Homo sapiens: one gene and its partners. The protein of the gene in region 2 interacts with the protein of the main gene of each other region in a pairwise test. Each region holds a gene or a part of one and is shown on either strand. Other genes may lie near its edges. The genes, in order: SPRED1, CNPY3, RNF11, GOLM1, KLK6, WFS1 and KCNJ6.

The links.
Region 1: the proteins of CNPY3 (region 2) and SPRED1 interact in binary tests that used the Homo sapiens proteins (3 or more experiments, as listed by UniProt).
Region 3: the proteins of CNPY3 (region 2) and RNF11 interact in binary tests that used the Homo sapiens proteins (3 or more experiments, as listed by UniProt).
Region 4: the proteins of CNPY3 (region 2) and GOLM1 interact in binary tests that used the Homo sapiens proteins (3 or more experiments, as listed by UniProt).
Region 5: the proteins of CNPY3 (region 2) and KLK6 interact in binary tests that used the Homo sapiens proteins (3 or more experiments, as listed by UniProt).
Region 6: the proteins of CNPY3 (region 2) and WFS1 interact in binary tests that used the Homo sapiens proteins (3 or more experiments, as listed by UniProt).
Region 7: the proteins of CNPY3 (region 2) and KCNJ6 interact in binary tests that used the Homo sapiens proteins (3 or more experiments, as listed by UniProt).

The regions. Positions count from the first base shown.
Region 1 is NC_000015.10:38,255,408-38,259,698, forward strand, and holds part of SPRED1 (sprouty-related, EVH1 domain-containing protein 1), read left to right. Parts: intron 1-4,291. UniProt on the Homo sapiens protein: Tyrosine kinase substrate that inhibits growth-factor-mediated activation of MAP kinase. Negatively regulates hematopoiesis of bone marrow.
Region 2 is NC_000006.12:42,932,118-42,936,408, forward strand, and holds part of CNPY3 (protein canopy homolog 3 isoform 1 precursor), read left to right. Parts: intron 1-2,260; exon of another isoform or gene 2,261-2,357; coding exon 2,358-2,481; intron 2,482-3,294; coding exon of another isoform or gene 3,295-3,356; intron 3,357-3,419; coding exon of another isoform or gene 3,420-3,456; coding exon 3,457-3,553; coding exon of another isoform or gene 3,554-3,637; exon of another isoform or gene 3,638-4,248; intron 4,249-4,291. UniProt on the Homo sapiens protein: Toll-like receptor (TLR)-specific co-chaperone for HSP90B1. Required for proper TLR folding, except that of TLR3, and hence controls TLR exit from the endoplasmic reticulum. Consequently, required for both innate and adaptive immune responses.
Region 3 is NC_000001.11:51,238,976-51,243,266, reverse strand, and holds part of RNF11 (RING finger protein 11), read right to left. Parts: intron 1-4,291. UniProt on the Homo sapiens protein: Essential component of a ubiquitin-editing protein complex, comprising also TNFAIP3, ITCH and TAX1BP1, that ensures the transient nature of inflammatory signaling pathways. Promotes the association of TNFAIP3 to RIPK1 after TNF stimulation.
Region 4 is NC_000009.12:86,026,043-86,030,333, reverse strand, and holds the end of GOLM1 (Golgi membrane protein 1), read left to right. Parts: intron 1-2,440; coding exon 2,441-2,517; 3' UTR 2,518-4,188; downstream 4,189-4,291.
Region 5 is NC_000019.10:50,966,771-50,971,645, reverse strand, and holds the start of KLK6 (kallikrein-6 isoform A preproprotein), read left to right. Parts: upstream 1-2,054; 5' UTR 2,055-2,156; intron 2,157-2,878; exon of another isoform or gene 2,879-3,054; 5' UTR 3,055-3,105; exon of another isoform or gene 3,106-3,129; intron 3,130-3,292; exon of another isoform or gene 3,293-3,373; intron 3,374-3,533; 5' UTR 3,534-3,541; coding exon 3,542-3,581; intron 3,582-4,149; exon of another isoform or gene 4,150-4,320; coding exon 4,321-4,477; intron 4,478-4,875. UniProt on the Homo sapiens protein: Serine protease which exhibits a preference for Arg over Lys in the substrate P1 position and for Ser or Pro in the P2 position.
Region 6 is NC_000004.12:6,276,159-6,280,449, forward strand, and holds part of WFS1 (wolframin), read left to right. Parts: intron 1-1,292; 5' UTR 1,293-1,297; coding exon 1,298-1,529; intron 1,530-4,291. UniProt on the Homo sapiens protein: Participates in the regulation of cellular Ca(2+) homeostasis, at least partly, by modulating the filling state of the endoplasmic reticulum Ca(2+) store.
Region 7 is NC_000021.9:37,606,495-37,610,078, forward strand, and holds the end of KCNJ6 (G protein-activated inward rectifier potassium channel 2), read right to left. Parts: 3' UTR 879-3,584; downstream 1-878. UniProt on the Homo sapiens protein: Inward rectifier potassium channels are characterized by a greater tendency to allow potassium to flow into the cell rather than out of it.

The DNA of each region.
Region 1 (4,291 bases), on a different chromosome or scaffold from region 2:
AATACTTTTTAAGTTTGGGCAGGGCGATAATAATATTTAGCATAATATTTTGGTAAACTCTTCATGGGAACAAAATCTTGGGGGTTTTACTTTAAAAAACTCTATTATATTAGAAAATAATGTGTTCATCTGATAATCAGTTTTACTAGAGCCAGCATTGTTTGCTTGTGCATTAGATAAACCACAGAGTGAACTTATTTGGAATGTAGCTTTTAATATAGTAATTTATGTCTCATCTTTAATAGGTGAACCGTTTTGAAATGGAAATTTATTATTTATAGTCATTATGAAGAAAGATACGTATCATGGCAGAAGCCATTAAGGCCTTAGCACAGTTTAAAACTGCCCTGTAACATGGATTTTATTTGGGCCTTACATTTTTTTCCCTTTTCTCTTTTTTAAAGCCATTGCTCATAGGGATTTAATTACAGTAGGGACTATTTTTAACATTCTTTAGTTTCTTTTTCACCTGATTTCAACCTTCAAGAAAAGTGAAAATCACCAGTTTCCTGGGAAACCATTAACCCTTTCTAGATAGCCATTGTGGTAAAATCCAGTAGGGCCTCATTCTGAAATCCTCGAGTACATGCTTATTATTTGAAATTAAAGTTTTATGTAGAGAAATGGATAACTCCTAGGCTGACTGTGAGAATATATTTAATCAAGAATTAGTGGGGGATCTGTTATGTGTAGGGCTTTGCTTTAATGCCAAACCAAGTAAGGAAGAAATAAATTAGAATAAAGCATTTCTTAGATTGTTTCACATTTATGTTTAAAAATCTTACTTTTCAAAAATAGTAAACATACTCTAGAGCAAAAGAATTTGTGTTATAAATAGTAGAGGAAATAGCCACATACATGTTTGTTTTGTAGGTAATTTGCACAGAGACTGTTTAATACTCCAGTCAAATGTTTCCGATAGATATAACTGTACCATATTTTACATTATTGAATTAGCCTTCTAAATAGAGTTTTAAACATTTAAAGGCATATTATATAATACTTAAGAGTCTTTGTCCTTTGGTATTGAGTGTATATAGCACTGCATGTCCTTTTGTCAATTTGGCCAAAACATTTGGAGAAGTGAAGTAGCTGAAATAATAAGCATTTGGCTTATTAGGTTCACGTTAGCCAGAAACACTTCCTGTGTCAGTATTAGGCTTTCTAATAGCAAGTTGGGATTATATTAGATTTTGGAATTAGGTTAACTAGAATTAGACCATGTATGATAAACGTACTATGTTGTAATCTGAGTTTGAACTGTTTTTCCGTAAATAGAAAGCAAATTTTTATGGTTATATCATTTAGTGCCTCATAAAAAATATACCCAGTGGTGAGTTATTTTTGATAAGTGTAAATAAACATATGTTCACCCCATACATTTTACGTATGTATATGTATGTACACACACACACATATATATATATATAAAATTGGAAAACATTCTAGAAATAAATGGAAGCACTGGAAAGCTGTGTAATATTAAGCCATCTAATGTTTGTTTATATAGATGTGGTGTATACATAATATAAAAATTTGCTTATTATTCAGTTGGCCTGTGTAAAAATCAGCTAAATGACTGCATACTTGCTTCAACTTAATTTCCCTCTGCTTTCTCACTTAAAACTTTATGATCCTGAATTATATATTTTAAACACATTATGATACCATACCTAGAATTCCTCTCCTTACAAACTTTTGTAAATTTGTCATTTTTCCCCAAAAGACCTTCTCTCTTCCCCTCTTTCAACACTCTGTCCCTCTATGTTGCCTCTGTACTTCGTACATATGTATATTAGTTTTAAAATCATATAATATTGTGATTATTTACTTATTTCTATGACCGCTATTCTGTAATTCCCTACTTTTGTTTGTATGCCTAGCACAGTGCTTGATGGCAAATGCTCTACAAATGTGGTTGAATTAATGGAGCCTCATTACCTCATTTTTTTGTTTTCTCTGAATTTATGCATTTGAGATCATTAGCTGTATTAGAAAAAAAGGCCGAAAAAGAGTATGGGAAAAGTAAATTATTACCCGTTTAAGAAGGCTTACCTTTTTTTTTAAGAAAAGACAAAAATTGGCCTCATTTTTGACATGTTTTGTTTCTGCAAGTTTGAGAAATAACTTAGATCAGGCTTAAAAACTGTCCTAAAGTGCTGTTGGGATGTTTGGATGTGCTTGGCCTCTGAGTTATGTGGTGTATCTGAAGACCCGTGTTATATCCACAAGAAGGTAGACATTTGTGTGTCTGTCTTTTTTGGCATAGGAAGCTCAAAATTTAGGAATATGTATCTCCAGCTGTTTATCAGTTTTAAGTCTTTAAATTGCTCTCCCTTTCCCCCATGGTTCCACATTAGTGCCAAGGGTGAGGAACTGACTAGGGATAAAGAAGTGAAATTGATCAGGAAAGGGTAAACAGCAGCAGATTCCGTGATTTTATACTGCAGCTGTTGGTGACTGAGAACTGCCTAAGGGGAAAGTGTAACAATTTAGCCTTTTCTCTGGTGTTGTATAACTTGAACTTGACTAGTCTTACCCAGTTTGGGGAAATGATTGGTAAAGACAAGCCTGCTTTTCTTCTCCATCTTTCAGTAGGAACAGGAACGACATTAAAAATGCCAATTTAAAAAATGCTTCACCCCATGTAAGAGTAGTAGTTTATTTCAGATAATGTACAAAATGATCTCTAAAGTGAGTAATAATTTATTTGCAATTCTGCCATTAAATAACAGCTGCTAAAATTTTGGTCTACATGGAAACCTTTCTTATGATGTTGGTGATGAAACATATTCATTTATTAGATTTTTACTGTATGCCAAGCACTGTTATAAATGCTTTATGAAAGCATTATGTAGTTTATATATATACATGTGTTTCTTCTCAGTGGAATGGAATTGCACAGTGGGTACAATTGTAGCTTAATGTGAATATTTTCTTAAGTCGTTAAATATTCTAGAATATAATTTTTAGTGGCTACATTATGTTCAGTGTATGATATACATTAGTTGTAATCAGTCTCCTATTGTTGGATATTTTAGTTATTTTTAAACAATGTTGCATACCATCCTGAGTTCTGTCTCCATCCAGATCTCTTACTTTTCCCTTGAGATAGTCTAAGAATGGAGTTAAAAGAGAGGAAAATATTTAATTTTATTCTTTCTGTTAAATTGCCCTCTAGAAAAGAAGTATTTAGTATATGAGAGTGCTTAAACTTTGAAATGTCTGTACAGTTGTCTGAATTTTTCTTTGCCAATTTTGAAGGTAGAAAATGAAGTCTTATTTTTTAAATGCTTTATGGTAAAATAAAATTGATTTAAAAACTTATTAGGTTGTTTTGCGGTAACTAGAATGTTTTTAAATGCTATATTATAAATAGAATTTAAGTGCTCATGTAAAAGCCATTTGTACATCATTTATTTAACTCTTACCATCTTCTGTGCAGTATGGTATAGTCTAAAGAACACTGGACTTGAAATTGGGAGATGGATTTCTTTTGTAGCTATTTTTAATTTATTCTCTAATCCTGGGCTCTGTAGGCCTCAGTTTGCTGATTTATAAATTAAAGAATTTGGACTAAGCATCATATGTGCCCTTCCTTTGTTGATGGTGTATGATTTAGACTTTGTTAATTTTATTATATTGTTATTTTTGACATACTTAAACAAAAGACTTAAGAGTAGAAGTGGTAGGAAGATTAGGTAAAAGCATGCATTTTGAACAATTAAGATACAAAATTTGGAAACAATTGGTATATTAATAGTCTTTTAAGACTTACTTTGGGCTTAATAGCCATGTATCTTTGATGACACAAAATTTTGTACTACTCAATTTTGTTTTTTATGTATTTATTTATTTTAAAGAGGCAGGGTCTTGCAGTGTTGTCCAGGCTGGAGGGCAGTACAGTGGTATGATCATAGCTCACTGCAGCCTTGAACTCCTGGGTTCAAGTGATCTCCCACCTGTGCCTCTTAAGTAGCTAGGACGACAGGTGTGCCACCACACCTGGCTAATTTTAAAATTTTTTGTGGTGATCGGGTCCTGCCCAGGCTGGTCTCAAATTCCTTGGCTCAAGTGATCCTCTTGCCTTGGCCTCCCAAAGGGCTGGGATTACTGGCATGAGCCACCATGCACAGCCCTCATTTTAAAAAAGAGAAAAAAAGTATGGCCTCCATCTGTGGATGAATAAGTAAACAAAGGCTATTGGGCTTAAACACCAACTTGATTAGTTCTACAAGGAATATGCTAACAAGATACCAGTCTTTATGCTTTACTTACAGAAGTAAGTTTT
Region 2 (4,291 bases):
TTCACAGACTCACGGAAGCATAGAGATGCCCAGGATCTCTATATCTCTATATCTAGAGATCATTCTAGTCTACCCTCATTTGGTAACTGATGAAGATTAATTGAAAAGGGATTTGCAGTCACAGGATGGCTTGGCAAACTCCAACCGTTAGGTTCATCTTAATAGTATATTTGTTTGTATTATTATTACACCTTTGTTATTAAATGCTGACTGTGTCTAGCCCACCAAGCCTGCCTCCTGGCTCAGTAGCCTGAGTGGAACAGGCCTCGGCACAGAGGAAGGAGAACCTGCCCGGAAAAAAAGAGTGGGTGGATGTCAGTGAGGGTCTGGTGTCTGTGCCGTGAATCTCCTGTGAGTCTGGTTCTGGGTGGGATCCGCAGAGGAGGTCTTGAAGAGGTAATGTTTGGAAGAGCTGGAAAGCAAGGCTGTGGTTGATGGGTATGAGAGAGAAAGGATGTTCCAAACCTCCCCTTTCCCCACTCCTGGGGAGGGCGTGGGAGGAGGGGCAAGTGGTGCTAGAAAAATGATGTGCCTGCACAGAGTACAGGACAGAAGAGGGGAGGGAGCCCAGATGGTCCTGGATGGAGAGCTGGGGAGGTGAGACATCCCCAGTTCATTGCAGACTTGAAGATCACCAGCTTATTACTTGGAATTTGTATGTGTTTCAAATTCTCCAAGCCATTGATTAATTTCACCAAGCAGGCCTCCAGGGGATGTATTTATTTTTGTGGTAAATTGGTATTCTAGCAGACTGTGCTGTCAGTGTTAAAACTGCTGATGGCATTTAGCCTTCAGACTGGTATTCCATTCAGAGGCATCAGAAGACGGTCTCTATCAACAAGATTTATCGAGCGTCCAGCATATATCAAGTCCCAGGCTAAGGAAATACGAAAAAATCTAATACATAATGCACATTTTGGGGACCCTTGTGGTCTATGTGGAGAGACACATCAAATGACTGAGGGTCCTTAGGGAGAGCATGGATCCTGCAGAGGCCCAGAGTGAAATCTAGAGCAATTGGCATTAGTGCAGAATGGCTTCCTGGGGGAGAGGCTTATAATGCGAGGTGGGCAGGATGGGCAGAGAAGCCCTTAGAAGGCATTAAGTATTTTCCTAGGGCCTCAGGCACTTCACACCCTCGGTGGTAGCACTGTAGCACTCTATACAGTGGTAGTTATTTGTCTACACCTTTATCTGCTGCATTAGACTGAGTATCTGGAAGGGAGGGGACCTTGTTTTCATCTCTGTATCCCCAGGCTGACACGTAGGAGTTGCCTAATACCTATTTGAGGAAGGGTAAGAGGAAATGAGGAAATAAATGTGCGGAGACAGTAGGAACAAGAGCTCTCTGGAGGGCATGGAGCAAATTAACTTGGTAGAAATAGAGCTGATGTTGGAACACATATGAAATCAAGTAATCTAACAACCATAAAAGATGTTTTGGGGACAATTAAGGAAATTTGAATATGGACTACTGGGTGATGTTGGAATTGTTAATTTTCCAAGTATCATAATTGTTCTATGGTTATGTAGGAGGAGGTCTTTTTTCTCAGGAGATACATGATGATATATTTATCTCAAAAGGTCATGTTTGCCACTTACTTTCAAGATGGTGTAGCAAAAGAAATGTATATATTGTTGAGATATTATAATTATATATTGAAGAGAGAATGTGGCAAACTATTAACAACTGTTGAATACAAGTGGAAGGTATTCATTGTGTTCTTTCAGCTTTTCTGTATGTATGCAATTTTAGAAAGTAAAATGATAGACCCTGGCGTGGTGGCTCACGCCTGTAATCCCAGCACTTTGTGAGGCCGAGGTGGGCGGATCGCTTGAGGTCAGGAGTTCAAGACCAGCCTACCCAACAAGATGAAACCTGTCTCTACTAAAAATACAGAATTAGCCGTGCATGGTGGTGCATGCCTGTAATCCCAGCTACTTGGGAGGCTGAGGCAGGAGAATCGCTTGAACCCAGGAGCTGAGATCTCATCATTGTACTCTAGCCTGGGCAACAAGAGCGAAACTCCATCTCAAAAAAAAAAAAGGAATACGAAGAACAATTGCTTAAGGGCAGGATTTACAGTAAGTACATGCTCTTACACAAGAAACAGTAGATAAAATAGAAATCCTAGAGGCATTCCTGAAACTGGGGTTAATCAGAAGTCAACATGGCACATTAGCATCCAAGATGGAGTTGCTTTAGCCTCCACAGGTTCTAACTCCTTCCCTGCCTTGAGTGCTGATTTTGGTCCTCCAGTCTAGGAAAGGATGCCCACCTGGATCTGTTTTGCTGGGAGCTGGCCTCCCATTAGACTCATGTGCACTCAGTGGGCTGTGCTACCTCCCTCCCCCAGTGTGTAAATATGTTGCTGTGGAGCTGAAGTCAGCCTTTGAGGAAACCGGCAAGACCAAGGAGGTGATTGGCACGGGCTATGGCATCCTGGACCAGAAGGCCTCTGGAGTCAAATACACCAAGTCGTAAGTGAATGGGGACTCACTGGCCTGGCCTGCGTTGCTGCTGGAGGCTTCAGGGGTTTGGAGTTCCCTTCTCCTAGCTAGGCAAACCCCCTACAAGGGCATCATTTGTAACCAAGACCTGAGTTTGCCCACTGATTCTGTCCCCAGCTAATTGGGTGACGTGCATAAATCTCTTAACTTCTTTATGCTTCAGCAGATTTCTCATCTCTAAAAGCAAGACTGTTGGACTATATCATTGATTCTCAGACGCTTGGATTTCACAGAGCAATGCAAGTTTTTTTTTGCGACGGAGTTTCACTCTTGTTGCCCAGGCTGGAGTGCAATGGCATGATCTTTGCTCACTGCAACCTCTGCCTCCCGGGTTCAAGAGATTTTCCTGCCTCAGCCTCCCAAGTAGCTGGGATTACAGGCATGTGCCATCACGCCCAGCTAATTTTCTGTATTTTTTTAGTAGAGATGGAGTTTCACCATGTTGGTTAGGCTGGTCTCGAACTCCTGACCTGAGATGATCCGCCTGCCTCGGCCTCCCAAAGTGCTGGGATTACAGGTGTGAGCCACCACACCCGGCCACAGTGCAATTTTTTAAAACATTAGTAACAGGATTACCAGCTTTTTATTTTGCTAGGTACAAATATAGTTTTTAAAAACCCAATTCTGTCAGCTGTGATCATCCTTTCAAAGAGAATGATATTTTACTATCAAAATTTAATAATTTTGCTTTATCAAAAAATCTAAATACTGAATCATTTAGCTTTATAAAAAATTCCTTCCCTTAGAGCTGTTAAAATTTTGTCTCTCTGGTCTGTGTTCCAGCATTTCAGATCCCCCAGACCAGATGACCTATCTTCCTTCCAGCTCTGAGTCACTTCCCATTGGTGAGATGTGCAGGTGTTGGGGCACAGGGCTGGAGGGACAGACCACTAACCCACTGCGGCTAGGAGGGGAACTCAGTTCCTCATCCTCCTGTCTTGGCAGGGACTTGCGGTTAATCGAAGTCACTGAGACCATTTGCAAGAGGCTCCTGGATTATAGCCTGCACAAGGAGAGGACCGGCAGCAATCGATTTGCCAAGGTTGGATTCGGGATTGTCCTTCATCCGCTCTGGGGTCAGGCCTGCATGTATCTTAGTGTGTCTGCTGGTGTGAGTGTGATTTGAAGATGACCACCTGGGATCTTCCTTCATTGCCTCTTCCCATTCTTTGATTGCCGTTTGTGCTCCTCCCCTCTTGAGTGGCCTCATTTTTCAGGCACATGCATGAGGGTCTGGGCCTGTTCATGAGGGTCCTGCTTCAATCTCAGACACAGGCAGAAATGCTCCACAGTTGCTGCCCCCGTGGGAACCTAAAGACACTAGAACGGGGAGAACTCAGCAAGATCCACGATGTGCAGAAAGGTGGGGGTTTAGGCGAGGTGTCAGAGGACACCTCGGTGGGAGTGACTGCCCAGTCCCATCTCTGGGTCCACACAGCACCTCCCACAACCCCGCTGGGATGCCCTTGTGATGGCCCATGTACTCAGTATGTGTACGAGTGCTTTTCTCTCTGGAGAATGAGCTGCTTACAACAAGGCCCATAGTTCTTACTCTCTACATCTTCAGTGCCTGGCACAGGGTAAGATAGTTGCCACCCACATTTTTCTACCTAAGTTTCCTTCTAGCAAAGGATACCATTCATAAACTCCTGGGATACCTAAGGGAATAGTCTCAAGCAGCAGAAATTTGTATGAATTTTGCACTCAGTAATAAATCTGTGTTTGCTTTAATAAAAAGTGTTTAAGAATTATTTTTCATAGCAGGAAAAAAATGAGAAAC
Region 3 (4,291 bases), on a different chromosome or scaffold from region 2:
GTCTATCATCAAATATTCACTGGGTGTCTACAATATGGAAGGTAACATTCTACTCCACTAAGATATCTTACAAGTTTAATGTATCATTCTCATTCTTGAGGAAACTGATGTGGAGAAACAACTGTTAAAGCAACAAAAGCTAATAAGGCAATATATGATTTCCAGATAAATGTTACAAACACAAAAAAACTGTACATGACAAATCAGCAGAGACAGGAAAAAAATGGTCAGTGAAGGCTTTATTAACAAAGGTGGAGTTAGTTGATCTGCCCCTCAATAAGAAGGCTGAACTTCTTGAGCATAAAGAAGGGGAGGGATAAAACTTCAAAAAGGTAAATTGTTAAAAGCTGAATAATTGTATAATAAGGCCTAGATACGTGAAATAAATTTGGAGATATTTTCCACCCAAATGTTAAACAAAATGCTAATAAAAAAACACAACCCTTTAATTATCTAAATTTAACTTCGTAAGTTATCAGGAAAATGAGGCATTAATATACCATTACAGGCAGGGCACAGTGACTCACATCCGTAATCCCAACACTGGGAGACATGGTGGGAGGATCACTTGAGCCCAGGAGTTCGAAACTAGCCTGGGCAAAGTGAGACTCCATCTCTAAAAAAAACAAGCCCATCCCCCACAAAACATTATAGCATTGCATGCTTAAAAATAAGCAGTACATTCTAGATTTTTTATAAGGAAGGGGGTTATTTTTAGTGCATTCTACAGGATAAACCAATCCTTTTAACAACAAAAGAGGGTTTTTGGTTTTGTTTGTTTTTTGTTTTTGTTTGGTATTTTAATAGAGATGGGGGTCTCACTTTGTTGCCCAGGCTGGTCTCGAATTCCTGGGGTCAAGTGATCCTCCTGCCTCTGCCACCTAAGTGCTGGGATGACAGGTGTGAGCCACTGTGCCCAGCCAAAAAAAAAAAAAAAAAAAGGTATCTTGAAGAAAGCTTTATGCAGACACAATTTGAAATATCCAAAATGTTACATTTTCTTATTTGTCAAAAAAGCTCCCCAAAACAATCTGATAAATTCTTTCCTTTTTCATATTTTACATGTAAGCGGCAGAGCCAGAATTTGAACACAGGACAATCTGACTCTAAAAGCAGAGCTATACTTGCATTCAATGCTATACAAACTTATTTTCTCAGGATTTTAAAATTTCAAATGTATCAATCAAAAAGTATAGGTCGGGGAAGAAGACTGGCGAATCTCAAACTATATAACTACTGCAAAATTGAGAGACACCTATCCTTATTTTTATATATTCAGATTAGAAAATGTAACATGGTTTGTTGTTCAATGAATATTACACTCTTTTAACAAAGTGCCTCCCTCAATTTAGCACATAACAAAGCTCTTGACAGTGACACAGGGGTACCTCAAGCTGTTTTACATATGCCTTTCAGGGCTGGGCTGCCTACCTGGCCTCCCCCTCTCATGGACCTCCCTTCTTCAGCCTTTCCTGGCTTATCCTCCCACTCACTGTCCTTCCAAGATTGCCTTCGCTGGGCAGATTTCCTCTGTATTATTTTTAAACATTTAGGAATAAGGGAGTTGGGTAGAGGGTGCGACAAATTTGTTTCTACTTTCTAATTTGACAAACACCCTAAATCTCTTTGCATCCAATACTTCAAGAATAGGGATTCAAGTACTTTCTTTTTCTCCCCCAAGTACTTTCCCATTACATAAATATCTTGCGGTGATATATATACACGGTAAAAACCCCTAAATCACTTAACACTTAGTGTAAACCAATTGCTGTATTTAATATTACTGGAATTTGACTTTTTAGGATTCCTTAAAACTGATCTACAACAGCTAGACACGGTGGTGTAACCCTGTAGTCCCAGCTACTCAGGAGGCTGAAGCCACAAGATCCTTTGAGACCAGGAAGTGGAGGCTGCAATGCACTATAATTGCACCTGTGAATAGCTACTGCCCTCCAGCCTGGGCAACACAGCAAGACCTCATCTCTAAAGGAAATAAATTTTTTTTAAAACCTGAGCCAGGCAGAGTAGAAGTGCACCTGTAACCCTAGCTACTCAAGAGGCTGAGGCAGGAGTATCCCTTGAGCCCAGGAGTTTGAGACTAGCAACATAATGAGACCCTGTCTCTATTTTTTAAATTTAAAAAATATAAAGGGCAGGCTCAGGGGCTTACGCCTGTAATCCCAGCACTCTGGAAGGCCAAGGTGGGCAGATCACCTGAAGTCAGGAGTTTGAGACCAGCCTGGTCAACATGGCAAAACTCCATCTCTACCAAAAGTACAAAAATCAGTTGGCCTTGGTGGCGCATGCCTGTAGTACCAACTACTCCAGAGGCTGAGGCAGGAGAATCGCTTGAACCCAAGAGGCAGAGCCAAGATGACACCACTGCACTCTAGCTGGGCAACAAGGTGAGACTTGGTCTCAAAAAAGAGAAAACAAAAAAACCCAAACATATATATACAGAGAGAGACCAGCCTGGGTAACACAGGGAGGCCCAGTCACAAAACAAAAAAACAAACAAAAAAAAACCTGATCTACAATATAGAAGCAAAAATGGCACTAGGAATATGCAGAGTTCTTGTAAGCAGTGCAACTATACCTGCCTCAAATACATTAGTTCATTTAAAAGAAATCTATTCATTCGTTCAACCAAATTACTGAATGCCTAACATGTGCCAGGCACTGTTATAAGTACTTAGGAAACACCAATTAAAAAAAAAAATCCCCTTTCCTCCTTTCTACCTAGTGGGAGAAGACAGGTAATAGACAACGCAACTTTCTAACACATGTTGGAATGTAATAAATGGTATTGGGGGGGAAAACAACAGGGTGAGAGGGACTTCCAGGTTATTAGGGCAGGTTGCACTTTCAAACAGGGTGGTCAGAGAAGGTTTAAGGGGGCAGTGAGAAAAGACTTGAAGGAGGTAAGGGAGTCAGTCAGCCATGAAATCTGGGGAAGAGTATTCCAGAATAAGGAGGACAAAGGTCCTAGAATAGCAATGAGGACAGGGAAGCTGGAGGGAAGCCAACAAAGGGGTTAGCTGTAGGTGTCAAGGGACATGCGTGGAAACAAGGGGTACAGATTATGTAGGGTTTATGCGACACTATAAGGAATCTGATTTTTACTTTGAATGAAACAAGGATCCACACAGAGGGTTGGGGAGACTGTCATGCTCAGTTTTACCAAAATAACTGTGGCTGTTGTATTGAGGACAGGCCTTAGCGAGGACAAGGGTGAAAGCAGGGATAACTGTTAGGAGGCTACAAAAGAAACCATGGAAAGAAATATACACTTCCTACAAACTTGGATCATAATGGTGCAGGGATTTACTTTAAGGCAAAAATAAATAAAAACAAATTTGTCAGATGTTAATAGGAAATAACTGTAACTGGCTCTTGTCATTATATGTACATTGTACATATAAAGCAGCAAACAATGACATCTTTTAACTACTCACCTCAAGAGAACATGTTCCTTTACAATCAGCTATTCACTGTTAATTACATATAATTTGTTGAAAAAGTTACTTTTATCAACTGAGAATACTATAAATCTGCTGTGTGAGGTAGCTAACGCCTGTAATCCCAGTCTTTGGGAGGCTGAGGGAGGAGGATCACCTGAAGCCAGGAGTTTGAGGCTGCCAAGTGAGCAATCCAGTCTAACCTGGATGACAGAGGGAGATTCTCAACTCAAATAAATGAATAAATAACCTTGGATTGCTGTTTCTCAGATCATCTAAAATAACCATTCCTAAGACAGATCTTATTTCTTTGGGGGTGGGGGACAATACTTTTTCTCCAAAAGTTTCTTTTTATGCTCCCATGTTTTAAAGTAATTTTCTTCTGATTGATACTGAATTTGTATATTAGTCTGCGTCATTCACTTCAGGAAACTGCAACCATAAAAAACTCCCACTGTCAAAAATATAACATTTCCAAAAAAAGTTCCTTCATGACACCAAAAACCCCTCATCCCTCATCATCACCTAGTTCTTCTGGAAAAGGCAAACACAGTTTCCATAAATTCTAGTACCTTTAATAGTACAATTATCATAAGGATAGGAGAAAGAGAACAAGTCAAAGATATTCAATTAAGAAAGGGGATAGGAGGCAGGAGAATTTGCTTGAGGCCAGGAGTTCAAGACCAGCCTAGGCAACATAGGAGTCCCTGTCTCTATTTTTTTAAAAATAGAAGGGGGTGAGGGTAGGGAGCATAAGAGATTTTAAAATAAAAACTTCATGCCAGATGCGGTGGCTCATGCCTGTAATCCTAGCACTTTGGGAGACTGAGGTG
Region 4 (4,291 bases), on a different chromosome or scaffold from region 2:
GAAGCAAATACAAACTCTCTGTTGTCATTGACTCCACTCATTTATGTTCTTGAGCATGTTTCACGGTCTGGTCACTGTCTTACTTCTATTCTTTTTTTTTTTTTTTTTTTTTTTTGAGACAGAGTCTCACTCTTCTTGCCCAGGCTGGAGTGCAATGGCACAATCCTGGCTCACAGCAGTCTCCGCCTCCTGGGTTTAAGTGATTCTCCTGCCTCAGCCTCCTGAGTAGCTGGGAGCTGGGATTACAGGCTCATGCCACCATGCCCAGCTAATTTTGTATTTTCAGTACAGACAGAGTTTCACCATGTCCACTAGGCTGGTCTCGAAATCCTGACCTCAGGTGATCTGCCTGCCTCAGCCTCCCAAAGTGTTGGGATTACAGGTGTGAGCCACCACCCCGGCTCTAACCACCTTTTAAATTGGGCCTAGTTTCCTACTAAATGATGGGCTTTGCGGTGAAGCCTTTTTGGATCTCTCATTCCCTACACTCAGGTGTCCTAAGGACTTGACCTTGTGCAAGGTTTTAAACAAAGTAAGTAGGTAAGGTAAAGAAAATGAGTGCCTTGTCAGCTCTTTGAAGAAGCTGAAGAAATGTCAACATCAGCTTCAACATTATTTTAAGATTGTGTCATTGAAACAGTGAGACCTTACTTGCTCCAGGGAAATTAGAAGAAAAAAGCATTAGCTCCAACTTTATTAAGAGCCTTTAACAGATACCGTTAATTTAATATGGCAGGTATTTAATGGTCATTAAACTACCATTTAATGTGCCATAGTTATAAATCAAGACCGTGGTTTTAGGTTTTATTTGTGATGTGCCTTTTTATGTTTTCTGTGTGTTAAAAGGATAGAGTAAGATCAGATGGTAGAAGCTACATACAGACATCAGCTCTGTAAAGGGAGAGCTTTGGAGTCACAAGAGCTGTCTGAAGCTGCAGACAGCTCTCAGGAGGCAGCGTGTGCCATTAGAAGTGCAGTAGCAAGGGAGTCACGCCGCACAGGAGCGTGGTGATTATATTTAAAATGTCATGAGTGCACTTGATACTGTCCATTTTCTATGGCATATGGGGCATTATGTCACTGTTACAAACAAGTATGGAATCTTTAGGTGCTTCAGCTTTGTTTCATGGCACATTGTTGGTCATCCATTTGGACACTTTGAAAGGGGAGGAGTTCCAGCTGGGCGTGGTTGCTCACGCTTGTAATCCCAGCACTTTGGGAGGCCAAGGCGGGCGGATCACGAGGTCAGGAGATCGAGATCATCCTGGCTAACAGGGTGAAAACCCGCCTCTACTAAAACTACAACAACAAAAAGAAATCAGCCGGGCGTGGTGGCGGGCGCCTGTAGTCCCAGCTACTCGGGAAGCTTAGGCGGGAGAATGGCGTGAACCCCGGAGGTGGAGCTTGCAGTGAGCTGAGATCGCACGACTGCACTCCAGCCTGGGTGATAGAGCCAGACTCCGTCTCAAAAAAAAAAAAAAAAAAAAAAAAGTTCCCTTATCCCCTTCACAGGGCATGCAATGGGGGTATGGCTTTCTTCTTCAGTGCCCCACAGCTCAAACCCCTAGGGGAAGCATGCGGACGGACAGGTTGTGGGGAGGATGGGTTTCAACCCCGCGGCAGCATCTAGGGTTGAGTGGTTACAGCTCCTGGAGCCCCACTGGGTGTGTGTTGCAGTGCGTTCTTTCAGCTTAGCTGTCCACAGGCAGCTTGTGTTAATCAGTTCAATTAGACCCTCTGCCTTATCGCAAGGACAGAGGGCTTTCTGTATCCCAGGTTCTTGCCCTAGTGTACTGAAAAAATCAGATCATGTGGGCTTGGAGAATGAATGCAAGATTTATTGAGTGGTGGAAGTAGCTCTCAGCAGATGGCTGGGGAGCCAGAAGGGGGATAGCATGGGAAGGTAGTCTTCCTCTGGAGTCTGGCTGCTCAGCAGCCGGGATCTCCTACTGTCCTTGGCCGAATTTCCCTTGGCGTCCGAATCGTTCCACCATCAATGGCCTGCCAGCGTCTTTCGATGTGTTCTTCTGCCAGTGTGTTCCTCTTGACGTCCAGCCGCTTGTGTGTGTGCCCGCTGGGGTCTCAGGGTTTTTATAGGCACAGAATGGGTGGCATGGCAGGCCAGAGTGGTCTTGGAAAATGCAACATTTGGGCAAGAAGACAGGAGTCCTTGTTCTCATTAGGTCCATGGGCACAAGCCTGAGGGTGGAGCCCTTGCCAGTGACCCTGCCCTTCTCTACCCAGCACTTCCCTGTCCCCCTCCCATATCACCGTTGCCATCTTGTCCTTGATGAGGAATACAACTCCCAATTACAGTGTTGCTGTGGGAGATGCAGTCCTCTTTATGACAGTTTCTAGAAGTTGATAAGAAAATGGGACCTGCCTAGGGCTAGTATCTCATTTAATACTCTATAGAATATTATGTGTTTTTCCTTTTTAGTTTTTAATGTTGAAGATCAGAAAAGAGACACCATAAATTTACTTGATCAGCGTGAAAAGCGGAATCATACACTCTGAATTGAACTGGAATCACATATTTCACAACAGGGCCGAAGAGATGACTATAAAATGTTCATGAGGGACTGAATACTGAAAACTGTGAAATGTACTAAATAAAATGTACATCTGAAGATGATTATTGTGAAATTTTAGTATGCACTTTGTGTAGGAAAAAATGGAATGGTCTTTTAAACAGCTTTTGGGGGGTACTTTGGAAGTGTCTAATAAGGTGTCACAATTTTTGGTAGTAGGTATTTCGTGAGAAGTTCAACACCAAAACTGGAACATAGTTCTCCTTCAAGTGTTGGCGACAGCGGGGCTTCCTGATTCTGGAATATAACTTTGTGTAAATTAACAGCCACCTATAGAAGAGTCCATCTGCTGTGAAGGAGAGACAGAGAACTCTGGGTTCCGTCGTCCTGTCCACGTGCTGTACCAAGTGCTGGTGCCAGCCTGTTACCTGTTCTCACTGAAAAGTCTGGCTAATGCTCTTGTGTAGTCACTTCTGATTCTGACAATCAATCAATCAATGGCCTAGAGCACTGACTGTTAACACAAACGTCACTAGCAAAGTAGCAACAGCTTTAAGTCTAAATACAAAGCTGTTCTGTGTGAGAATTTTTTAAAAGGCTACTTGTATAATAACCCTTGTCATTTTTAATGTACAAAACGCTATTAAGTGGCTTAGAATTTGAACATTTGTGGTCTTTATTTACTTTGCTTCGTGTGTGGGCAAAGCAACATCTTCCCTAAATATATATTACCAAGAAAAGCAAGAAGCAGATTAGGTTTTTGACAAAACAAACAGGCCAAAAGGGGGCTGACCTGGAGCAGAGCATGGTGAGAGGCAAGGCATGAGAGGGCAAGTTTGTTGTGGACAGATCTGTGCCTACTTTATTACTGGAGTAAAAGAAAACAAAGTTCATTGATGTCGAAGGATATATACAGTGTTAGAAATTAGGACTGTTTAGAAAAACAGGAATACAATGGTTGTTTTTATCATAGTGTACACATTTAGCTTGTGGTAAATGACTCACAAAACTGATTTTAAAATCAAGTTAATGTGAATTTTGAAAATTACTACTTAATCCTAATTCACAATAACAATGGCATTAAGGTTTGACTTGAGTTGGTTCTTAGTATTATTTATGGTAAATAGGCTCTTACCACTTGCAAATAACTGGCCACATCATTAATGACTGACTTCCCAGTAAGGCTCTCTAAGGGGTAAGTAGGAGGATCCACAGGATTTGAGATGCTAAGGCCCCAGAGATCGTTTGATCCAACCCTCTTATTTTCAGAGGGGAAAATGGGGCCTAGAAGTTACAGAGCATCTAGCTGGTGCGCTGGCACCCCTGGCCTCACACAGACTCCCGAGTAGCTGGGACTACAGGCACACAGTCACTGAAGCAGGCCCTGTTTGCAATTCACGTTGCCACCTCCAACTTAAACATTCTTCATATGTGATGTCCTTAGTCACTAAGGTTAAACTTTCCCACCCAGAAAAGGCAACTTAGATAAAATCTTAGAGTACTTTCATACTCTTCTAAGTCCTCTTCCAGCCTCACTTTGAGTCCTCCTTGGGGTTGATAGGAATTTTCTCTTGCTTTCTCAATAAAGTCTCTATTCATCTCATGTTTAATTTGTACGCATAGAATTGCTGAGAAATAAAATGTTCTGTTCAACTTATAAAACTTGTCACAGCTCTGTTTTTTTGCTTTTCCCCTTCATCCTCTATTAGATCCTTAAAGAATCCACCCTCAAACTGTGGACTAAGGATGGCAGTTTGCCT
Region 5 (4,875 bases), on a different chromosome or scaffold from region 2:
AAAAAGTATGGTGATTGGAAAATGTAAATGTGCATGCGTGCTTGGCATCACATTTCATTGGCCAGGACTTCCCTGGATGCTAAAGGTCCTCAAATGCCAGGCTGGGGGGCTGGGACTTGGTCCCAAGGGAGATGGGGACCCAGGGCACGTCTGTGAGAGGAGGGGCAAGGTCAGCACAAGGCACAGGAAGGTCTCTCTGGGGCAAGGGATACAGAGAACAGAGGGATCCTGGTCCAGGTGGGAGAGGTGCAGCTCTGAGTTGGGGTTGAGGGTGTGGGTACAGAGAGGAAGGGACCCCCCAGAGAGAGGAGGCAGAGGGATAGGGCCTGGTCACTGGGTTGTGCAACATCAGACTTGCTGTCTGTGAAGATAGCACGTCCTGAGAAGAAGGTGCTGAGGTCAGTGGGGACCAAATGTGAGAGGGAGCACCCGGAGAGTATACTGAATACCGAAGTAGTCTTCATCCCTGGAGTGATGGGGGGTGCACAATGCAAGATGACAATTAGATTCAATGCAAGACAAAGAAAAGGGTTGGCTGGGAACAGTGGCTCATGCCTATGGTCCCAGCTCCTGGGAAGACTGAGGCGGGAGGGTCGCTTGAGCCCAGGAGGGTTGAGGCTGCCACGAGCAAGGATCGTGCCACTGCACTCCAGCCTAGGCGACAGAACAAGACCTTGTCTCAAAAGAAAAAAGAACTTTTTTTTTTAAGTTACCTGTAGTGCCCAGCCCAAGCAGGTGCTGAGCCAGACTTCATTCCTATCATTGTCCTTATTACGCAGTGACTTCCCCCTCCTCATTTCTCTCCACTCTGCCACGCACACACCCTCACCCTCCAGCCCATACCAACCACCCCAACCACTGCCTGTGGTTTCCCATGTGCACCCAGGCCAGGCATTTTCACGGCCTTTCCTCCTGACCTACGCCTGGCTCAGCTTTCTAGGCCCAAGTTCAAAGACACCTCCCTAAATCTTCCCAGATCCCTCTGCTACTGCCCAGCACCACCATCTTATCACAGCCCCACGTCGTTCCCAAGTGCTCTCCGATTTCTGCTTAACTCCATGCCTCTCGCTGTGTGTCCGCATCTCATCAATAAGTCCTCAAGTCCTCTTCCATCCTGCTAGCTTCCTCATCGCTCGGGAATCATCCCCGCTACTTCCTGGGGAAACTGACTCCCTTCTGGGCACACACAGTGCTACCCCCGGGGAAATCTAAGAAGAGACCCAGGAGAAGATAAGCACGGAGAGTCAGAGAATCAAGGGGAAAGAAAGGGAGAGAGGCCGGGCACAGTGGCTCACACCTGTAATCCAGCACTTTGGGAGGCCAAGGTGGGTGGATCACCTGAGGTCAGGAGTTTGAGACCAGCCTGGCCAACATGGTGAAACCTCTTCCCTACTAAAAATACAAAAAACATTTAGCCGGGCGTGGTGGTGGGTGCCTGTAATCCCAGCTACTTGGGAAGCTGAGGCAGGAGAACTGCTTGAACTCAGGAGGCGGAGGTTGCAGTGAACTGAGATCACACCACTGCACTCCAGCCTGAGTGACAGAGCAAGACTCCGTCAAAAAAAAAGAAAGAAAGAAAGAAAAGAAGGAAGGAAAGAAAGAAGGAAGGAAGGAAGGGAGGAAGGGAGAGAGGAAGGGAGAGAGGAAGGGAGAGAGAGAAAAAAAGAGGGAGAGAGACACAAATACAGAGACTGAGATGGGAGAGAGAGAGAGATGGAAGCTCCCTCCCCTCCATGGCCAGGGAGACAGATGGAGCAAGAGACCTCAGGGGTGGGCAGACTTGGAGGAGAAGGACCAGGAGGATGTGGAGTGCCGAAATCTCCAGTCAGGGCCAGGTGGGCAGTCAGAGACTGCAAAGGAGGACTGTCAGACAGGGACAAAAGGAAGCCATTGATGTAACCGCCCTCCCGCCTGCCCGCCGGAAGAGAGGTTGAGGCCGGAGCTGCTGGGAGCATGGCACTGGGGTGCTGGGGGCGGACAAAGCCCGATTGTTCCTGGGCCCTTTCCCCATCGCGCCTGGGCCTGCTCCCCAGCCCGGGGCAGGGGCGGGGGCCAGTGTGGTGACACACGCTGTAGCTGTCTCCCCGGCTGGCTGGCTCGCTCTCTCCTGGGGACACAGAGGTCGGCAGGCAGCACACAGAGGGACCTACGGGCAGGTGTGTGAGTCACCCCAACCGCACTGAACCTGGGCAGGCTGCTTCCCAGTGCCGGAGGGCTCTAGAGCCCGGAGTGAGGGCCTGCAGGTCCCTGGGTGGCACAGAGAGTGCTGGGGGTGCAGGGAGGCCTGGGGCACCATCTGCTTGCCCCAGAGGCCGGAATTTGTCTTCAGACACTTTCTTTCTCCAAAACCCGGAGGTCTAAGGACTGAGCCGACTAGAACTTCCTCTGCCTCAGATTCAGGCCCCAGCCCCTCCTCCCTCAGACCCAGGAGTTTAGGTCCTAGCCCCTCCTCCCTCAGACCCAGGAGTCCAAGTTCCCACCTCCTCCCTCAGACTCAGGAGTCCAGGCCCCCAGCCCCTCCTCCCTCAGACCCAGGAGTCCAAGTTCTCACCTCCTCCCTCAGACCCAGGAGTCCAGGCCCCAAGCCCCTCCTCCCTCAGACGCAAGGGTCCAGGCCCCCAGCCCCTCCTCCCTCAGACTCAGGAGTCCAGGCCCCCAAGCCCCTCCTCCCTCAGACCCAGGAGTCCAGGCCCTCACTGCACTCAGGGACCAGTGCTCCCTTCCCTGGAGGCCTGGTCAGGGGTCACCAAGAGCAGAGCGTGGGGGCGGGAGGAATGTGTGTGGGAGGCCTGGGTAAGGAGGAAAAGGGTGTAGCCAGTCTCCTGGCTCAGGGACCTGAGAGACAGGGGTTAAAAGGACGTTCCAGAAGCATCTGGGGACAGAACCAGCCTCTTCCAGGGAGGCCTGGGAGCTGGGGGTGTGTGTCTGGCAGTCCCTGCAGCCCTGGGCTCTGCGGCCCCTGCGTCCTCCGCTTGGCTCTGCCACTGCATCTGAGTGTCTTCTCTCCTCACGGCTCCCCGCATTTCTAACTCTTTCTGCCTCCTCGTCTCAAAGCTGTTCCTTCCCCCGACTCAAGAATCCCCGGAGCCCGGAGGCCTGCAGCAGGTGAGATCACAGACATCACAGAACCTGCCGGGTGGGCGGGGTGGGTGGCCATTGCGCACAGAGCCAGGCTCCGAGGAAAACTCCCATACAGAGGAAGAACGCTAGGGCCCCCTAGGGTAACCCTCTCCTGTCGACAGGAAGGCAAATCAGTGCCCAAGAAAGTAGAAAGATCTAATCAGAATCTCACCATGGGTTACTGGACCAGTGGACGTAGTTCTGAATTCTCTTTGGCACTGTTTTCGTGGGATCCTCTGATGGAAGATGTGGGCTGAGGAAGAATAAATCAGGAGGCTAGATGGGAAGGACAGAGGTCAAGGCAGGAGACCATAGCAGGCCAGGAAGGAAGGAGAGGATGCAGAGGGAGCAGACAGAGGGATGGGGGGAGGGTCGAGGCAGTGACTAATGGACCATGTGGCTTCCCCTCTCAGGAGCGGCCATGAAGAAGCTGATGGTGGTGCTGAGTCTGATTGCTGCAGGTGGGGAAAGGGCATTTGGATGGGGGAGGCTTGCAGACAGGGTTGGGCTTGTTGATGGAGAAGAGGCTGGTATTGGGGATGGGGATATGCACAGGGTTGGGGTGGGGGAGCTTTGAAATGAGGAAGACGTTGGGGATTAGGCTAAGGGTGGGGAATACAGATAGGGAGGGTGGTGGGAGGTGGGTTTGAAGATATGAGGGTTTGGGGTGGGGTTGGCTTTAGGGATGGGGATCTAAACATAGAAGAGGTAGGAGGTAGGTTGGAAAGTTGGAGAGAGCCCGGGAATAGGGGATACAGTTGGGTTTGTAATGGGAATGGGGTAAGTTTGGGAGTGGAAATACAGAGAAGCTTTTTTTTTTTGAGACAGGGTCTCACTCTGTCACCCAGGCTGGAGTGTAGTGGCATGATCCATAGTTCACTGCAGACTTGAACTCTTGGGTCTCAAGTGACCCTCCCACCTCAGCCTCCCAAGTAGCTGGGACTACAGGCGTATGCCACCATACCCTGCTAATTTGTGTGTGTGTGTGTGTGTGTGTGTGTGTGTGTGTGTGTGGAGATGAGGTCTCACTGTGTTACCGAGGCTGGTCTCAAACTCCTGGGCTCAAGCGATCCTCCTGCCTCAGCTGGGATTACAGGCATAAGCCACTGCACCTGACCAATCTTGACTGGAGTTCATGTTGAGGGGGATGCGCTTGGTTTCTCCAGAACTCCTCTCTGACTCAGATCTTCTCTCCCTCAGCCTGGGCAGAGGAGCAGAATAAGTTGGTGCATGGCGGACCCTGCGACAAGACATCTCACCCCTACCAAGCTGCCCTCTACACCTCGGGCCACTTGCTCTGTGGTGGGGTCCTTATCCATCCACTGTGGGTCCTCACAGCTGCCCACTGCAAAAAACCGTGAGTCTACACTGTAAATGAACAGCAGATGCGACTGAACCCTGAGGGTGTCTTATAGATGTCAGGCAGGAGGTGACATAGGCATCCCCCCCATCCCAGCACGAGGCCATCTGATAGCCAGGTGCATTCGGCTGTTGCTTAATTGAGTACTTAATGTGTGCCAGGCCCTGCGGGCATAGCAGTGGAAAAGAAAATAAAAAAAAGAAAACAAAAAAAAACAAGCAAAATTGCTGTTTTCCTGAACTTACTTTCTAATGGGGGAATTGGATCATTTGGGGACCTGCAGGGCGTGATGGGCATTTGGATTTAATTCTGAGCACAGTAGGAAGCCACTGGGCAGTTTTGTTTTTGTTGTTTGTTTGTTTTTTGAGACACAGTCTCGCTCTGTCACCCAGGCT
Region 6 (4,291 bases), on a different chromosome or scaffold from region 2:
AGTTTCCACAGCCTCACACAGCAGCAGGTTCAAGGTCCAGCAGTGCCAGGGGTTTGCATCCCACCCCTAACGCCGCTCATCCAGGGCCCATCCGGGTCCGGGGCTCGGGATCCTGCAGCGCTTTCAGCTCTGTGTCTGTGGCCGGTGGTTGTCCTTCATTACAGGGATGGTGGTGTTTTTCCATGTTGCTAAGCAGCATGTGAGGGCCTCTGTTGAATAAAATAAAGCCCTTGCTCCGGCGTGACACGGGTCACGGGATCTCTGCTCACTCTAGTCTCTTCTGATGCCCCCACCGCACTGTTTGCCTTAGTTTGCTTTTTACTCTCTGTGTTGGTTTCTGGGGCATCAGTCCTCTGACTTCGGTGCTGTGGCTTGGGCCTGGGGTGGGGGCTGTGGAGCGGCAGATCTGGGTATGAATCCCAGCTCCACCCATTTGGCTCCCTCTCTTCTCTCCCCTGCCCTCTTCTCCCCTCCCCAGCTCCCTTCCCCTCTCATATTTACTTAACTTTACTCAGTACCAGCGTATTAGTTTTCTAGGGCTTCCGTAAGAAACTACTGGAAACTTGGTGGCTTAAAACAACAGAGGTTTGTTCTCTGATGGTTCTGGAGGCAGAAGTCTGAAGTCAAGGTGTGGGCAGGGTGGGTCCCTCCTGGAGGCTCTGAGGGAGGCTCAGTTCCTCGCCTCTGTCCAGCTTCTGGCAGTGGCCAGTGGTCCTCCTGCTCCTTGGCCACTGTCACCCGTCTCCGCATGGCTCTGTTACACTTCTCTTCCTATAGGCCATCAGCTCTTGGAGCCAGGGCTTCCCTACTCCAGGCTGATCTCATTTCAAGATCCTTAAATACATCTTCAAAGACCTGTTTTTCCAAATAAGGGCACATTCACAGACATTGGTGGGCACATGATGTGGGGCCCAATTCAGCCCCCTGCAGCCAGGCTCCACATGGGTGGGCTCTGGGTGTTGCTATCATCATCCCCGTTTCTTGGATGAGGGAAGGCCAGGGTTGTGTGGCTCATGCCCAGTGAGGCAGGGACTCCAGGCCTCGGCATGTGCAGGTCTGAGATTGTAAGTGCCATGCCATCTGTAGAGTCACGTGGGTGAGTGTCCTCCCATGGTTTCCTCCCTGGAAGCGGTGCTGGCCCATGGGGACTGTACTGAGTGTCAGCGAGATCCTGTATGGAGTGTCTGGCAGCTCCCACCTGCCTCCCTCTGCTTTTCTGTCTCCAGCAGACACTAAGTGCCAGAGCGGGCTCTGCCGGTGCTGGATGTGCCTGACCTTGACTTTTCTTCCAGGCAGGATGGACTCCAACACTGCTCCGCTGGGCCCCTCCTGCCCACAGCCCCCGCCAGCACCGCAGCCCCAGGCGCGTTCCCGACTCAATGCCACAGCCTCGTTGGAGCAGGAGAGGAGCGAAAGGCCCCGAGCACCCGGACCCCAGGCTGGCCCTGGCCCTGGTGTTAGAGACGCAGCGGCCCCCGCTGAACCCCAGGCCCAGCATACCAGGAGCCGGGAAAGAGCAGACGGCACCGGTAAGGGAGCAGGCTGGGAAGCCCAGGCTGGGGATGTTCAGGGATAGCTGGGTGGGAACGGGGTTCAGCCACCCCTGGAGGGTCCCCCCGCCAGGTCCTCTGCAGTTCAGCATTGTGCAGCTCCCATGCTGTGCACAGGCGTCCATCCAGTGGGGCTACCCACCTCCTCAGAGCCTTGCACCTGTCACCTTTGTGGCACCCACTCGAGGTGGTGCTGGTGCCCCCACTCCTCTGCAGTCCTTCTCTTCCCAGGGCCTCTGCAGCACTTCACAGCTTCCATTTGCAACAGCGTCCAAACATGTGGAGTAAATTCACGGGCCCTCTGTAACCAACTAGGGTGGCAGGCCAGAGGTGACAGCCACACTCTCGGGAGTGAGGCCACATGCGGGCGAAGCCCTTGGTGCTGAGTTTCCCCTCTCCCTGAGGGAGACTTGTGAGGGACGGGCGTCCTTCACCTCCATCCTGAGGCGGGATGCTGGGGCCCTGGGTGTTCACAGGCAGAGCTGACTGAGGCCCTTGGTCTTCACAGGCCGAGCTGACTGAGGCCCTGGGTGTTCAAAGCAGAGCTGAGGCCCTTGGTGTTCACAGGCAGAGCTGACAGGCTTGTTGGTTCCTGGGTGGTGATGTGAGGGTGGTGGGTGTGAGCCAGGGGAGTCCGGCCCCTGGGCACCTTCTCCAGCTGACTCAGGCCTCGGTCAGCCTTCACTTTTGCTAGAGAGGCCGCTGCCAGGGAGGCTCAGTCCCAGCTCATCACTGCCCCTCCTGCCCATGCAGAAGCCCCAGACCCATGGTGAGTGCCTGCTGTGTACACCAGCCTTTTCCATGTGCCTGCAGGACTCCTCATGGCAGTCCTGAGAGGGGAAACTGAGACACCGAGTCTAGGTGACTTGCCCAAGAGACCCAGCGGGTGAGAGACGAGGTGCTCGAGTGGTCCAGGTTTCCTTCTTGTCCCAGTCACCCCACTGGCAGGGCCGTGGGGCCTCCCTGCTGTGGTCGCAGCGCGCTGAGGCTCCCATGTACCACTTATGCTGGGCGTGCCCTTGGAAACTCACTGCAGCCCTGGGCCCTGTTTGTCTTTGCATCTCCTTAAAAGATCACTGTGCTCCTCTGCTTTGTTTTGGAGGCCTCTGGGCGGATGAGGGCCTGACCCCGGGATTTGGGCCCAGCCTCACGGCTTCAGGGGAACAGATACCAGGGCTCGGAAGCTTGGTTTCAATCTGGGTAATGAGAACAGCCCGCAAAGGACAGAGTCCAAGACTGTGTGTTTCAGATAAGAAGAGTCAGGAAGCAGCTGTGGTTTGTTTGGCTTCGGTCTCCAATGTGGGGGTGGTGAAGAGCAAGCCCTGGGCGCCGCCTGACAGCCCAGTCCCCACCACTGGGCCTGCAGCTGGGGGCAGTGGGCATCCCGTCTCCCAGTCACTGGTCACTGATGTGGCCAAAGCAGGCCTGGCCCTGCATGCCCAGTGGCCGCAGGGAGGGCAGGGCCCAGGGTCCCTGCCAGTAGCAGCTGCTGCGAGAATCTGTTATTTAGCTCCCCCATCCAGCCAACATAGGTGGGTGAGCATCAGTTGAAATACCAATAGGTAACAACAAGGGTAGCTATTTAACTGACACTTCCCCGAGCTAGGCATCTTTTTAGGGCATTAGCCCACTTGCCTCTTTAACAGCCCTGGGAGGCAGGCTCTGCTGCTGCCCTGTTTTTCAGATGGGAAACCGAGGGATAGAGGGCTTAAGTAGATGACCCAGCGTCCCGTGGTTGGTGAAGGGTGGAGGGGAGATTTAAACATACCGTGGAGCCTGTGCTCACTATGGGCCTCAGGTCATCTGCGCCCAGGGATCCCCATGTCCCAGGCTCAGAGAAGTGCACAGAGCAGGTTGGCCTGTCCCTAGATCAGTGCCTGGCCAGGCCCTGGTGACAGGAGTGAAGGCTCAGTCCTGCCCTCCGGGAGCCCTGAGCAATATGGGAGACAGGAGTGAACAAGGAACTACATTCTGGGGCTCATGTAGCGCGGGGGACAACCCACATTGCAGTCCCCTAGGGGCACCCCAGGAGGGCCTGGTCACTCTTCAGGGCATCAGGAAGACTGCCTGGAGGAGGCATCGTCGGAGCCCCATCTGAGCTGCTCCTTGGCCTGTACACTTGGGAAACAGGAGAAGAGCAGCCTTGGGGTTGCCCTTCTCTGGTTGCCTCCCTGAGGAACTGACCCCCTTTTCAGCCCTTCATTCAGCAAGGCTGGGGAGGGGCTGCTTCAGAAACGTCACTGGGCTGGAGCCCCACACTTCCTTCCCATCCTGGCTCTGTGGCCTTGGCAAGTCACCTGCCACCTGGGGAACCACTGCCAACGGGTCGGGGCTTGGAAGCTCAGGGGCTCCTGGGCCCAGACAGGTAAAGGAAACAGTGACTCCGGCTAGAAAGGAGACTGCAGGGAGTTGTGAGGCTCTTGGGCGTCCCTGTGCCAGGGCGGGACTCCTCATGGCAGCCCTGAGAGGGGAAACTGTGTCCTGTGTGGAGCGTGGATGCCCACGTGCTGAGAGGTGTTGTCTGTCCTGATTTTTGACAGCAGCCCAAGTGATGTGCCAGTGGGCCAGGGCCGGCACCTGCCTGTCGGTGGCTGCCCCAGGGCTGATGGGCAGGGGCCGTTTCTTCACAGGCAGCTGTGGTGAGTCCTGTGATCACCTCAGTGTTGTCTCCAGCCCTGGGGGGATCTGTTGTTCTGCTCAACAAGAGAATAAAGCTGGGCTTGTCACACCTGGTCCCAGGT
Region 7 (3,584 bases), on a different chromosome or scaffold from region 2:
CAGGGTAATAATTCCACCAGGCACAACAGTAATATTGGCAGGGGCACATTAGGAAAATCAGGACGAAATACACACGATGTCCCAGGGTTTGTTTCACCAAACACTAGCTTCTGGGAAAGAATTTATCTTAGGCACATTTTTACATGACTTTTGTTCATGTTACAGTATGAGGCAACTCACGTGTCATTTTAAACCTTGGCTTCCTGCACGCCTCGGTAGAGAGGGACAGCTGGCTAAGCCACCAGCCCGAGATTCCCTGGTGGGGAGGAGTTAGAGCCGAGCCGAGGCACTGGAGTTTGGCAAAGCCAACCCATGCAAAATGGACCACTGAGAACACGAAAAACTCTCACGGAATGTTTCTTTAGTCCAACATGGAACTTTATCATGAATGATCAAACTCCTTTTATTAAGACTCTTAGAGCTGTGACAAGGGGCAGGATCAACTGCTCTGCAAGTCCCTAATTCCCTTTCGTTTTTTTCAAGTTCCATGAAGTGCAAGGTACAAACAGGTATCAAAGGAGTCCCACTTGGGTCAGTAGGTGTGGAAAGGAGCGGAGCTGACCCATTGCTGGGATCTGGCCATAGGCAGAACATTGTGGGAGAGATGGGGAAAGAGACAGGAGGGGGAGAGCGAGAAGGAGGAAAGGGAGCAAGAGAGTTAGGGAGAGAAAGAAAGAGATGGAGAGAGAGGAAGAGTGGGAGGGAAGAAGAGAGAAGATCACTCCAAACCCATGGTACTATCCTTGGGTTATGCCTGATATGCCTGACATCTTGAGTGGCCCTGGGGCAGGGTGTTGCGCTTTGAAACAATTCATGCTCTCACTTGTAGAAAAGGCCGACTTCTTTGGACACAGACACACATAAAAAAGAAACCAAGGCCATATCAAATTTTTCTTTTATTGTTCCAGTCAAAAAAAGAGGAACACCTCAATATGTAAACAGTTTCCCTAACACAGCGAGTTCTTAAAGATATATATATATATATATATTTTTTTTTTATTTTAAAAAAATTTGGCATTGTAGTGATTTCTCAATACATAATTTGTGCTTTCGCATTGAGCATGCTTTCGTCTCATTGTCCGTGCACAGACATACTTGGAGTTGAGTAAAGGGAGTTACAAAAGGACCAAAAAATGGGACAGGAGCCAAACCAGTACTTGAGCCCTACCTGGTGTTCCTTCCTAAAAAGCATGGTGGAAAAGTTGGCAAGATTGACCTCAGAAGCAAATCTTAGTGACTTTATTCCAAAGAAATCTTAGAAGCCTTGGTAGCAACTTTTGAAAGAAGCATTTCTTGTTTTCTTTCTGTTCATCCCTAAAGGATCATTGGTTTTGCTTGGAGAAAACTTTAGTTATTTTGTATGTTATATTTCTTAATATCCCTAAGTCCCTTCTAAAATAAACTCTTGTTTTGTGATTTTGCTGGACACATGATGGTTTACAACTACATGCTATTGAAATTCCACTAGTGATTTATTCTGCTTTTTGCTGAATCATTTCAAAGTGCTTGACAGTTGTGTAAAGACCTTTTGGTTTTGTCCAGTGAAAATTATTTTTTAATTCAATACTAAAGACTTCAGAGCCTTTAAGATGCAATGATGGGTTTATCAATAATACTGTTCATGCTATTCGTTTCTTAGTCCTTGTCCTTAGCCTGAAATTCTAAGTCTCTATAAATTAGCACCAGTTTTCCAAATGCATATTTTATCAAATCCTATGATCCTAGGCTGGTCTAGGTACCATCCCCCAATCTTACCTTGTGTGTTTCTGTTTTAAGACCCTCTCCCATGCTGGCCTTGCAAACTGAAATGCCTTTGCTTTTGGATCTCTCTCTCTCTTTTTAAAATAGAGATGGGGTCTTGCTGTGTTGCACAGGCTAATCTTGAATTCCTGGGCTCAAGCAATCCTCCCACCTTGGCCTCTCAAAGTGCTGGAATTACAGGCATGAACCATTGTGCTTGCCTGCCCTTGGATCTCTGTCTCCAAAACCTAAGCAGTCTTTGAGAAATGTCAGGGCAAATGTCCCTTTCTTCCTCATGAGGCCATTTCTTACTGCTTACGCAGAAACTGATCTACTTTCTTTACATTCCAGCAAATTTGTTGTGCCTGTCCCTCTTCGTTTAGGTATTTCTAAAACTAGACTCAGTTACTTCACGTGTGAAGTGGGAAGCAGTATTTTCTCACAGGGTTTTGTGTGGTTCGATGCACTTAGCGCAGTGTTGTTGCATGGTAAGGGCTGGCAGCCATGGGATTACAGGCTTGTTGAGGACAGTGGGGGATGTTACTTTTTCTCAGAGTCTTCATAGTAACTTGTCAAGGACATCACTCACTGTACTGCAAGTGTTCACTGAGTGCTCATGGCCAGCACTCAGGCAAGTGAATACACATTTGGAGTAATAAAATATGGGGCATCAGCTAACTTTCAGAATATTTTGAGTGGAGTTTTGTCCTTGTCTAGTTTTAGTTGCCTGTTGGGATCCCTGAGTATAAAAATACAAGTGTGTGCCTGCTCCCAGCATTGACGAGCTTCATGAACCTTGAAAATGGAACACTTTATTTCTCTGTAGGATGTGAGCATTTGATAAAGAACTCAAGTTCCTGAAAAAATTTCTGGAGACAAAGTTGAGGATCAAGTATCATCTGTGCTTCATTTCTTTTGGGAAGATGTGCGTTCTCTAGGTGTGGATATTGGAGTTGGCACACTGACATGCACCCTAATGACCCTCAGCTTGGGGACCCAATTCTGACACCTGCTGGGCTTTGCTTTCTTTGCTTAACTAGTTCTTGAAAATTCTGTGTGATGGTGAGAATAAGAAGTTCCAGGTACATAGAAACATGAATGTCCACAAACATGCAACCCCCAAACTAGATGCAGTCTTATCTTCAATCGCATAGATTCAAAATTAAAGAGACTATTGAAACCTTGGCACTGCTAGAGACTTTTGAACTAATAGCTTTCTGGAATAATTTTCTATCCTAAGAAATAGCTCACAGAACAACCCTATATTTTACTGGGCCATAGTAAACATTTTGGGCCTTAATATAATGCCATTTTATTAGGAAAGACAAATACAATGAATTATCTTATGATTAATAATGAAAAGTGGCCACTATTTTCCATTACTGGTATATAACTAAAATAAAGCAGTAGTGCTACGGTTAAAATAAATCAGCTTAATTAAAATATTATGGTTTAAGCTTTTTGCCTCCTTAATTATCCTGTCTGGTTTAGTTTTTGTTTTGTTTTTCTGACTGGGGCCCTAGGTGCATGCTTTAGGGAGGGTAGAGCTGGATTTGGGTTAAAAGCAAATTGTCAGTAGCCTGCTGGAGCTGAAGGAATTGCTCATGGATGAGCTGGCGAGATGCAGCCTCACATTTATTTTCTATCAATGATGCTGACCTTCCTTGGACATTTTTCTACTGCAGAGAAGACCACAGTGCATGTCCAGTAGCACCTCATTTATCTAGAAGGCACCTACCTCACAGCTCATCTCTCTGCTACCGGGTTTAGTGGTGGTAATGACAGGGGAGCAGGACGTGGTCGGTGGGTGCTGTTGGAGACAAGTGTGTGGCTGGTAGTTAATT